Regions from separate parts of the Homo sapiens genome. Here region 1 is linked to region 2. A link means that fine-mapping ties the variant in region 2 to the expression of a gene that starts in the linked region. Tissue or cell type: whole blood. Region 2 holds a variant in brackets; the other region holds the start of a gene. All regions are shown on one strand. Distances are from middle to middle.

Region 1 (5,357 bases), 120 kb before region 2:
AAATAAAAGAATAGAGTTAGCAGCAAATAAGTCTAAAATAATCCTTAAAAAAATGCATAGAAATGAGCACAATATTGATAAAGTAAAACTAATGTATTAAAATATGATCATTAGTTAAGAAAATAAAAAATTACTCAAATGGTTACAATGAAGACACACATAGCATTTAAACACAAATACCTTGGTATTTTCAAAAGTTCAACCAATTCTAACACATTTTATTCACTACAAAGCAATGGAGAAGCAAGATACCAACAACTTTTTTTCTTTGAAATTGATTTCAAGATCAAAACTGTATTTCATTTCCATGGCATTAAAGTATGTGATTTATACAGTATACCTAAACTTGTTGCTTACTTCAAAACAGCAAATACTAACATGTCCCCAGAGAGGATAAAATTTTATGGGTCTTTAAAAAGCAAAAATAAAAATAAAAATAAATCTGTGGTTTTCAATTTCTGATTATAACCATGGTATAAATCTATAATCAAGAGCTTTATTTGCATTGACTTTTCTAAATCAGTATCTCTTCACCACGTGTAGTAAGCTATTTCTAATGAAACACACTGTTATCAAATGTGTACCAATTATCAAATGTGCCCCAGTTGTCATTGTTTTTTAAATTTTTACAACAAAGTAATATTTGCTCCAAAGAGGATATATTTTCGTTTTAGGAAAAAAATTCATGTGGATAATGAATATACTAACTTAAAGCACATGATTTCACTATCTTTCTCCTGCTAGAATTTGATAGGCCTCACAGAGGACAAAAAGTGCATATATAACAATATCTACTAAACTCTCAAATCCTGGTCCAAAAATTACATGCAGGAGGATTACCTGCAAAAAGTGAACAGGTAATTAAATGACAAATAGATGTTAAAAATTACTTAAATTCTTATCAGGTCAATTTGAAGAGCCAAAGTTTACATAAAGAAGATTTTAAGGAAGAAAATAGCAAAATGTTGGGTTTGTAAGATGTTTCAGTGAATGCTAATGTAGAAACTATAAGCTTATTTGAAAAGAAGAAAACCATTTGCTGATCATACTACAGCAGCTACCTACATATTTTCAATTAAGTGATTCTGCTATTATAGGTACACATGAAACCATGTTTGGAAATCCCACAAGCTATAAGGACAAAACCCTCCTTTTGTTTACTTTGGATACTAATTAGAGATACAGATAATATGGATACGACTTATTTATAAAAGAGAAAAAATAATTTTTCTCTCCTTCACATGAATAACTGCATGTTAAATGAACGCTTTTACCTTTCAATGTAAAATCTGTTTACACATACAATAAGGCATGATAAATCCATAGTTAAAATAAAACACCAAAATGTATTTCTGGTTTTTTATCACTAAAAGTTTATTCTGAAAAGGTTCTGGACATTTGAAAAATAAAGGACTAGAATCATTCCCATACCCTACCAGTGTATTTTGGGAAAATCAAATTTTCTGTAAAGAAACTTATGAACATATTTGTACAGTTATTGTGATCTAATATGAACCAAAAGCAGATAATGAATAGCACTAGGAAGAACACAGGGATATTTTAGTTCTAACACCCTCCTGTCTCCCTAGCCCTTACCTCCCTGCACATTCCAAATAATCTTTTGTAATTCACTGTCTCCGCCCACCCCATTTACTTTATGCCACTCCTAGTTACTGTCACACTAGGAAGAAGTCTAACATGCAGATTTAGAGTGGCATGGATAAATGGCAAAAAAATGCCTAGAAAATTGGTCTGTTCGCCTTTATAATTTTGGTTGAAAAATACTCCATCGCTCCCAACTGATGAAAACAGGAAGCTCTATTCATAAATATAAAATTCACTGCCTATGATATATAATCATCCTAATAAGAAAATGAGTTCTATACATACTTGTCCAAAGGGGCAAAAAAGGAGATAGTTTCCCAAAGATGTTTCCAATTTTCTTCTGAATCAGAATTAGCAAATCGAGACGACTAACATACTCTGTCTGTGGGCATTATTCCTTACTACACACAGCATTTTGTAATTTATTTCAAAGCTTCCATTAGAAACAAAAAAATACATAGCTTCTGTTAACCCACTCTATTCTAAGCTCATAGAATCAAATACTGAACAATCTACATTATAACATAAGCATTTTACTTTATAGAAGATCTGCTATCAGAAACTCTATTAATGTCTAAACTACTTAAAGAACTATATAAACTGAATACACTTCAATGAAAGACAAAAAATATTACAATCATAAAGAAAACTAAGATTCATCCAATAAACTATATTACAATCCCTGTCATTCATTTTTTTAAGATCTTCAAACTAGGCATGAGATAATGGTATACATGAAACATTACATTTAATCTTTATTGTAAAGGCCGCCATCTAATAGATTGATAATAAACTAGACAGACGTGATTTAAAATTTGTAAAAGAATGCCCAGACTAACACTTTCATGACAGCCAATTATAGTCAAGCCTAGCAAGCAGTTTGCAACCAGACCTTAAGGTAAACTTTTTTTTTTTTTACAATGAGTTACAGATTCACAAGTTTAAGAAGACAAGAAAAAGGAAAACAGAAGGAATCCAGCCACCCAGCAAATATGAAGCAGACCCCAGAATGTGATACAGTCCAAAGATGTGAATTATTGTATATCATCACTGTTGTTCAGAATTTCACACAGACTCTTGAGCCAATTTTGTTCATTTTTCCACAGACACAATAATGAACTAAAAAGAGGAGGCAAAAAGGCAGAGGTTGAGCGGGGAGTAGAAAGGAAAGCCCTTAACTGCAGAGCTCTGCTCTACAAATGCTTAACCTTACAGGAGTTTGGGCTCCTTCAGCATTTGTATTCTATCCAAATCCTCATGAGTCACAAAAATTAAAAAGCTATATCCTTCTGGATGCCAGGAAAGGCCTTACCACAAGCCTTTTGTGAGAGAAAGAGAGAGAGAGAAAGAGCAAGGGGGAAAAGCCACAGTGGTAGGCAGTCCCACTTTACTTAAGAGTACTGTGAGGTCACAAACCACATGATTCTGCCTCTCCAGTAATAGTGCTTGCAAAAAAAAGGAGTTTTAAAGCTTTTGCTTTTTTGGATTGTGTGAATGCTTCATTCGCCTCACAAACAACCACAGAACCACAAGTGCGGTGCAAACTTTCTCCAGGAGGACAGCAAGAAGTCTCTGGTTTTTAAATGGTTAATCTCCGCAGGTCACTACCAGCCACCGAGACCAACAGAGTCAGTGAGTGCTCTCTAACCACAGTCTATGCAGTAATAGTAGGTCCTTCAAATATTTGCTCATTCTCTTTTTGTTTTGTTTCTTTGCTTTTCACATGTTACCAGCTACATAATTTCTTGACAGAAAAAAATAAATATAAAGTCTATGTACTCCAGGCATACTGTAAAACTAAAACAAGGTTTGGGTATGGTTTGTATTTTCAGTTTAAGGCTGCAAGCAGTATTTACAACAGAGGGTACAAGTTCTATCTGAAAAAAAAAGGAGGGACTATGGCATCAAACAGCCTCTTCAGCACAGTGACACCATGTCAGCAAAACTTCTTTTGGGGTAAGTGTTACCATTTTTAAAATCCTGTAAGATATGAACCTGTTAAACATAAAGGTATGATTCTTTGATAAACTGCTAGCTTTTCCAAATAGCATATTAAAGATCCTAATTATGCTATCTTGTTGCATTAAGAATTGAAAAATGAAATTTCTGTATATATTTGCATTTGGTATCTGTAATGTATCTAATTTTCAAAGTAATGACTTGAAATATACAAAATTAAATTATCTCACATTGATCAAAATGTTTTCTAGAGTTATAGAGGTGAGGATATGAAAACAGTAAAAGAAACAGTTTAATACTCTCATTAACCCTCACCAGAAGAAAAGTCAGATCCTAAATTAATCAAAGCATTATAAATTATTGACTCCGGCAGCTCCCAATATTTGAGCAAACTTCAAAAAGGAAGCAATTTTACAAAATAACAGACCACAGAATTATCTCAACATTATGGTCTACCATGTATAACACAGAAATAAACCTGTAGTACAGTTAACATTTTAACCAGCTCAACTAAAAGAAATCTACTTATAAATTCAAACTGTATCCTATCTAAATAAGTTTGTTTCTAAACAACTTTATATAAGTATACATTCAGCTGAAATAAAATTATGATAAGCACATCACAGCCATTTTTAAAAGATCTTTATAGTTGCCCAGGATATTAAAAAGTTCATGGAAGTATTTTAAAACTTACATGCAACTGCATTTTTCTATGTAATTTTAATTTTACATCTACACACTGTTATCCATAGACCTTGTTATAAACACACTGAAACACTGAAACGTCTAAGATTCTTTTAATCACATTCTTGGACCTACCAAAATGAATAACTGCTGTTTAGTCTCATGAAAAATAAAGCTCCATAAGGATACCCTGTATGATTTTTAAAAGCCACAACTATTAAACCATGCTGGACTTTAAAAGAAGTAGGCATAATCTTGTCCCTTAATATTTAATTTCAAGTTACTGTTGATACAGATATGTAAATGACTTTAACATTCATCAGCTGATGTGTTATTATAGCAAAATATCTAAACACACTTACAAGATTCTCTTTATGATCTCCAACATGTTCCAACTACAAGGCAAGTTTTCAAAAATTTTTCTTATATCCATTAAAATAAACCTTCTTGCTGTGTACATCTATATTAACTCTGCTTTTAACTTACAACTAATGACTGGAGTTTCCTTTACTCCTCCTACTTCACACATTTTAACTGGATACTACTAGAGGATCAGTCTCAGTTTAGGTCAAACAGAAATAATTAAACCTGAAGGGAGAAAAAATGGTTTCTCTTACAGGGTGAGGAAATGTACTTTGTATTTTACAAAAAAAAATGTAAAATTGCTTTAGTGACTCCCTCAATAGCTGTAAGTGGGCCCCCTCAGTTATAATATATACAATATAATAATCACAGATTAATTTAAAATTTTAATGATGGGTACCAAGTATTACTCTAAAAACTTCTATATTAAGGAAGCAGGACATAAACACAGCTAGACTACATTACAACACATAGCATAATTACAGCTTATACATCGAAAGTTTTGTTACTACTACCCAAGAGATAAAAGGAAAAAGAATAGTTAAAACTACTGTTACACAGAGGGATAACTTGAAACAGGGATAACAGAGATATCAGGGAGGGATAACAGAGGCAGTTAAGTTACTCTTTCACGTTATCACTCTGTTTAACTATTTATTTTAAACACATTTTAAAAACCAGATCAGGAACAACACAAGTTTCAAAAAATTCTTCAGTATTAGAAGTAAAGTTATCATGAAGAATAT
Region 2 (5,357 bases):
CTTTTATCCTCCATTACTTTTCATCTTAGTTGGGTGAAGGAATAGACTTTTTATGCCAAAGGCTAGCCCATGACTTTTGCTTATTTACCAAAAGAGGATGCTTATTTTATTTTATTTTATTTCAGATGGAGTCTTGCTCTGTCTCCCAGGCTGGAGTGCAGTGGCGGGATCTCGGCTCACTGCAACCTCCACCTCCTGGGTTCAAGCGATTCTCCTGCCTCAGCCTCCTGAGTAGCTGGGATTACAAGTGTGTGCCACCACACCTGGCTAATTTTTTGTATTTTTAGTGGAGACGGGATTTCACCATGTTGGCCAGGCTGGTCTCAAACTCCTGACCTGGTGATTCACCCGCCTCAGCTTCCCAAAATGTTGGGATTATAGGTGTGAGCCACCGCGCCCGGCCCAGGAAGATGCTTATTTAGAGATTGGTCACATGTGAAATAAGGTGAGGGTACATGTAAAATATGTTGGATAGAGGGACAGCAGATGTATTTTTTAAGATTATTTGATTCTTCTGGACACAGTTCTTGCATTCACATTCTTGCAGTCTGTGAGGATGATTTGAAAAAACCTTGATAGCCTTTGTGCCATGCCCCAGATGCTGCAGGCCTGGGTTTTAGTCCTTAGCACAAAGCATTAGTAGAGAAGCCCTTAACTTCCTGACTTTCAGACTTCCCCTGGGTTCTTCACTGTCTCCGAAGTGCCCAAGGAATAGAATTTATGGGTAAATGCCATGTTTTGATATTTACAAGTTGGCAAATACAAGCAGCAATTTGATTGTCATAGATATTAATCACTTGGCTACCAGTATATAAAACATCGTTGAAAATCTTTAACTTAAGAGAATAATAACAGTAAGAAAACCCCACTGTTCTCTGTTTCCCTTTCTTCAAGAAGGATGAGGGGGGCGGGGGGATGGGTCAGAAGCGCTGGTGGAGGTTATGTCTGGTGGTTGGTGGAATGTGCTCTTGAGAAGACCAGTTTTAAATATCTTTCAGTCCTTTTTTTTTGTTGACTGGCTGTCAGGAGCTGGGAAGATAGCCAAGAAGGAAATGACACATCGAGAGGCATTTTGTGTTGTGCAACATTCTGTGGAACTGATGCAAGGATATATGGCCTGTTTACACATTCCTTCGCTCGCAGACTGCATGGCAGTAATTTAATTCAGCAGCACATGGCATGCTGCAGCAAGGAGCTATGGCATTAACATCCTTTCATGGCAAATTATCACAGCCGTTAAAACATGCTCGTGTCCCTCCTTTGCACTCTTCCCTGGCTTCCCAGCTCTGAATATGCGTTTTCATTGTATTGGACTTGTGTTAACAAGGTGCTGTAGCTTTCACAGCAAGAGCACAGTTTCCACATGCATATGTTCCAGTTGATATATTTACTTCTAACTAAATATAGCATGGCAAGTTTTCAAGTGATATGTGTTCTAAAAACACATACATGCTTGATCCAAATGTGTCAGTAGTTTGTATCTTAGTGTAAGTCAGAGATCATTCATTCTGAAAATAGTGTTAGGGACTTGACAGGGACTTGAGAGAAAGAGGTTCCCCTCCCCCCCTTTTTTTGTCTCTCTTTTTTTTTTTTTTAAATAATAATGACCTTTCGTTCTCAAGAAAGATAATTCCTGATAGATCACTGAAATATTCTGTTCACCTCTATTTTGTTTGTGCCATGGCAATTTCTTCAAGGAAGACTAGACCAGTGAATAGGACATACTTAAAAATAGCAGGGAAAAAAAAGATTTGTTGTATTGCTTTTCCCATTCATACCTGTCCATACCTAGCATTTTTATAGGATACATTTATGATGTCAACTAAAGAACATCTTTGGCCTTCACATAAAATCTCTAAAGTTTTTATTTAAGCAGGTATAAAAAATAATTAATTGCTCTTGTTTGTTCAAGTAATTTTGGAAATTAAGAAAAGGCATAAAAACCATTTAGGTCTAAAATATTAATTCAAGATCATATGTAACAGTTAAAATAAAAGACTGTGTTTGTAAGTAGCAAAGGAAGGGCTCCAGTTCTCATAATTTCTCTGCTACTGCACACTGGTGGTGAAAATCTATTTGTTGGAAGACCAAAACTCTTCATTAAAATTTAGGTTTAAGGCTTAAACCCAAGCACCCCTGGAAAAGGTAACTCAGACTTAAATTCTTATTAAGATAAAAACAAGTGAC[A/G]TAGAATCATTTTTTGGGAAGTAGGTTTTGGAAGATAGGGGAGGAGTGGTCAGTGAAATCCTGGGTACTAGAAAGTAAACAGTGAGTGGCAGTGTGCAGCAGGCAGGACCTTTGCCGGCCTTGAGGCCAGTGGTTGCCAACTTCAGGCATCACAGTTTTGCTGCAGGTCAACTGTAGCAATGAGCATTCCTGATGCTTTCCAGTTCTGATATACTCTTAAGAGTGCAAGATTTTGTTATTGAAAGGTGAGAGTTTTAGGGTTCTGTATTTCCATATCTCTCTCTTTTGCAAATGTTTTCCTTTCAGAGTATTCCTTTTCTGTTGTTCTAGATACATGCTAGCTTTCCTACTCTATTGGTTTGCAAGTTATCATTGAATGTGTTTCTTTTATTTTAGTATTATCTTTACCATTTTAATATGTATATTTGTCTTATTAAAATTAATCATGATCTCTGTCCATACAAGAACTTTAGCATTCTTTAAACTGCAGTCTCACCCCCTCTCTTCTAATGTCGTTATCTGATATTTTAGTAGATCCTTGTTTTATATTTCCTGGATTAGTCATTATCGGTGTTTAAAAAATGTTTATACTTGTATTTATCCATTATGTTTATTGATTCATTTGCTTATCATTCCTTCTTTCACCTTAGTTCTTCCTTTTAAGTTGAGTTTGCTTTTTTCTTGATGTAGATCCTTCAGTAATTCCTTCAATGAGAAACTGTTAGTGTGAAACTCTCAGAGAGTTTTTATTCCTGAAAATGTTAGCAGTTGTGTGTGTTAGCTGCTGCCAACATGCGGTGATGTGAGAGGCGTTCTGCTGAAAGCCTGTCTGCTTTGAGTGCCTGAGATCCACACTTCCAGTCATTCCTTTGTATTGAAACTTTCAGGTCATTATTATCAGGTTAGCTGGAGTAGTATTTAAGGAAATGGAACACAGGACAGATAATATTCATGAAAGATGGTGGAAGGGAAATGTTTCTAAGCTCCTGTCACTCTGGAGAACTCTGGAGAGGTCTAGGGTCAGTGAGTGGGGAGGAGGTCAGAGGGAATGTTCCTGCAGAGGAGAAAGCAAACGGGGAGGAAATTAAATCCCTTATTTTACACTTTTGCCATGGGCAGGCACTGAGTTGCTTTGGAACTTTTTATCCAAATTTATGTTAAAGAACTCCACCATTACACTTGCTCTGCAGAGGTCATGTGGCTGTTGCTCCCTGAGCAACCGGAGCAGGAATCCTTAGATATTGGTGTCCACACGTTTCTGTCATTTTGGTGAGAGTACAGGACTCAGAACCACAAGAGCTGTCTTTTGTAGGGTAAACGAATCAACGAATTAAGAAGAGGGAAGAAAATAATGTGTGGACTAGAGGAACATGGTTTAAAAGGGCCAGGAGACCACGATCTGGGGTGAGACTAGCTCTGGGCAAGGTGGATGGGGTGACTCCAGTGCTGGCTCGGTGTGTGTCTTCCTGGGGTTGTGCAGTAGTTGGCAGGTGGGGAAGACATCAGATGACACTGAAGCAAGCTGGTGCTTTCTGCCTTGCCGTGAACTCTCAGAATGCATATGCACCCTCCACAACATGCATTCTCATCTTCTCATTTACCTCCTTGGAGTTAAATTTTATGAGATACAATCTGGGTAAAAACGCTAGCATGTATTTTGGTTGCGGGGGATACTCAGGATGATTAATCTGGGCCTTATGCCTCCTTAGGATTGGCCCAGGAAATTATTAGTAGGCAAAGATGGGCCCTTCAAGGAGATGATGAAGGTACCAAATGCAGGTTGTTCTACAAGAAGTGAGGAGAAATATAGATGTGTAAAAAGAAGGGTGAGTGTGAAGTCTGGGTTACTAATTCTAGAGCTTTGGTTTCTGTTTCACCCCCTCACTGTTTACTCCAGCCTACAAAAACAAGTGACAATGTGTTTTCTACCATGAAGGCTATTTCAGAGTAGCTTAACAGGGAATTAATCTGTAAGGGTAGTTTGTGTTTAAGAGGTGGATTCCCTTATGGCTAAGGGGATTGGAGGACTCAGGAATTCTTCTTTTGAGACCTCATTGCCATCTTTGTGACCTTAAGCAAACCACTAAACTTTTCTCTACTTCTATTTCTTCATCTTTCAAATGGAAATAGACATGAAGGCAACTTCACAAAGTAGCTGGGAGTAACTCCTAAGGAATGATCATAAAGTACTTGGCACACATGAAGGGCAGCTTAAATACCAATTAGTAATTATGTAGCGCCTTTCTGCCAAGGAGTTCCAAATGCTTAGACATTACCTCAGTGATTCTCTGTACATCTCTCTGAGGGAGGCGTTATGCATTTTACACATAGGTAAACTGAGGCATGGACACCTGAGAACTCATTTGTCCTATGTTACTCTGCAAGTCAGCAGATGATTTATAGAGACAGGCAAGGATTCCAGATATTTTCCTGTTTATCCTGTTGCCGTTTGTCAAGTCTGTGTAAGTGTTGGGCCCAGGGGATTCTTGGTTGATGTGATGAAGCAGTGTTACATAAGAAGCATGCTTAATGCTGCAGTAGCATCGCTGAATAGTACAGAAGTCAAAGTTATAAGGCCTGGCACAGAGTGGGCATGCAGTTCATGGACATAGGCATGTTTGTTGAATGAGTATTGAATTCATTTTAACAGCTGAAAACACTGAATTTTGTGAGATGAAAATAATACATTGTATAACTTAACCTCAATAGAATCTTACTTTGAATACCAGTGAAATGAATTTAGTACTTAAAAAAAATTAACTTTAAAAAATTGCACAAGTGAAAAAATTGCACACTAGAAAATAAAAACTAATAATAACAAAGAAGAAGACAGAGATCACTCATAATTGCATCTCCCAAGATTACCACTACTAACATCGTGATGTGTATCTCCCAGATATTCTGTGATAGATAATGCTGGTACTGTTATGAAAGATAACAGAAGTTGGGGAAATAACATCAGGAAAATGATGGAATGCTACAGAATGGCATGACCACATTGAAGCTCAAAGGAGAGCGAATAACTGGAAATGAGGATAATTGCTGTAAGGAAAAGGAGCATGACAATAGAACCGACAATTGTTTCCAGTTAATGGCTGCCTCTGTGATGTGAAGGGCCTGTGCTGCCTGAATGATGTGGGACTAGATGGATCTGAGAAAGATCCGTTCCT

The links. PIP is the estimated chance that this variant, and not a neighbour inherited with it, causes the effect.
Region 1: it holds the start of RUNX2, and the variant in region 2 is fine-mapped to the expression of RUNX2 in whole blood (TOPMed, PIP above 0.99).

The regions. Positions count from the first base shown.
Region 1 is chr6:45,325,224-45,330,580 of GRCh38, forward strand. It overlaps RUNX2 (RUNX family transcription factor 2), which reads left to right and starts at 3,107. Exons shown (of 9, transcript NM_001024630.4): 1 at 3,107-3,237; 2 at 3,438-3,561. The coding sequence starts at 3,504. The region is part of intron 2 of SUPT3H (SPT3 homolog, SAGA and STAGA complex component); the gene reads right to left. RefSeq lists a cis regulatory region at 1,825-1,831, a promoter at 2,789-3,429 and an enhancer at 2,836-2,876.
Region 2 is chr6:45,444,921-45,450,277 of GRCh38, forward strand. The region is part of intron 5 of RUNX2 (RUNX family transcription factor 2); the gene reads left to right. Among named protein-coding and RNA genes, the nearest start is that of SUPT3H, 70 kb to the left of the region's middle. RefSeq lists an enhancer at 1,028-1,529. The variant A/G (reference allele first, on the strand shown) is at 2,188.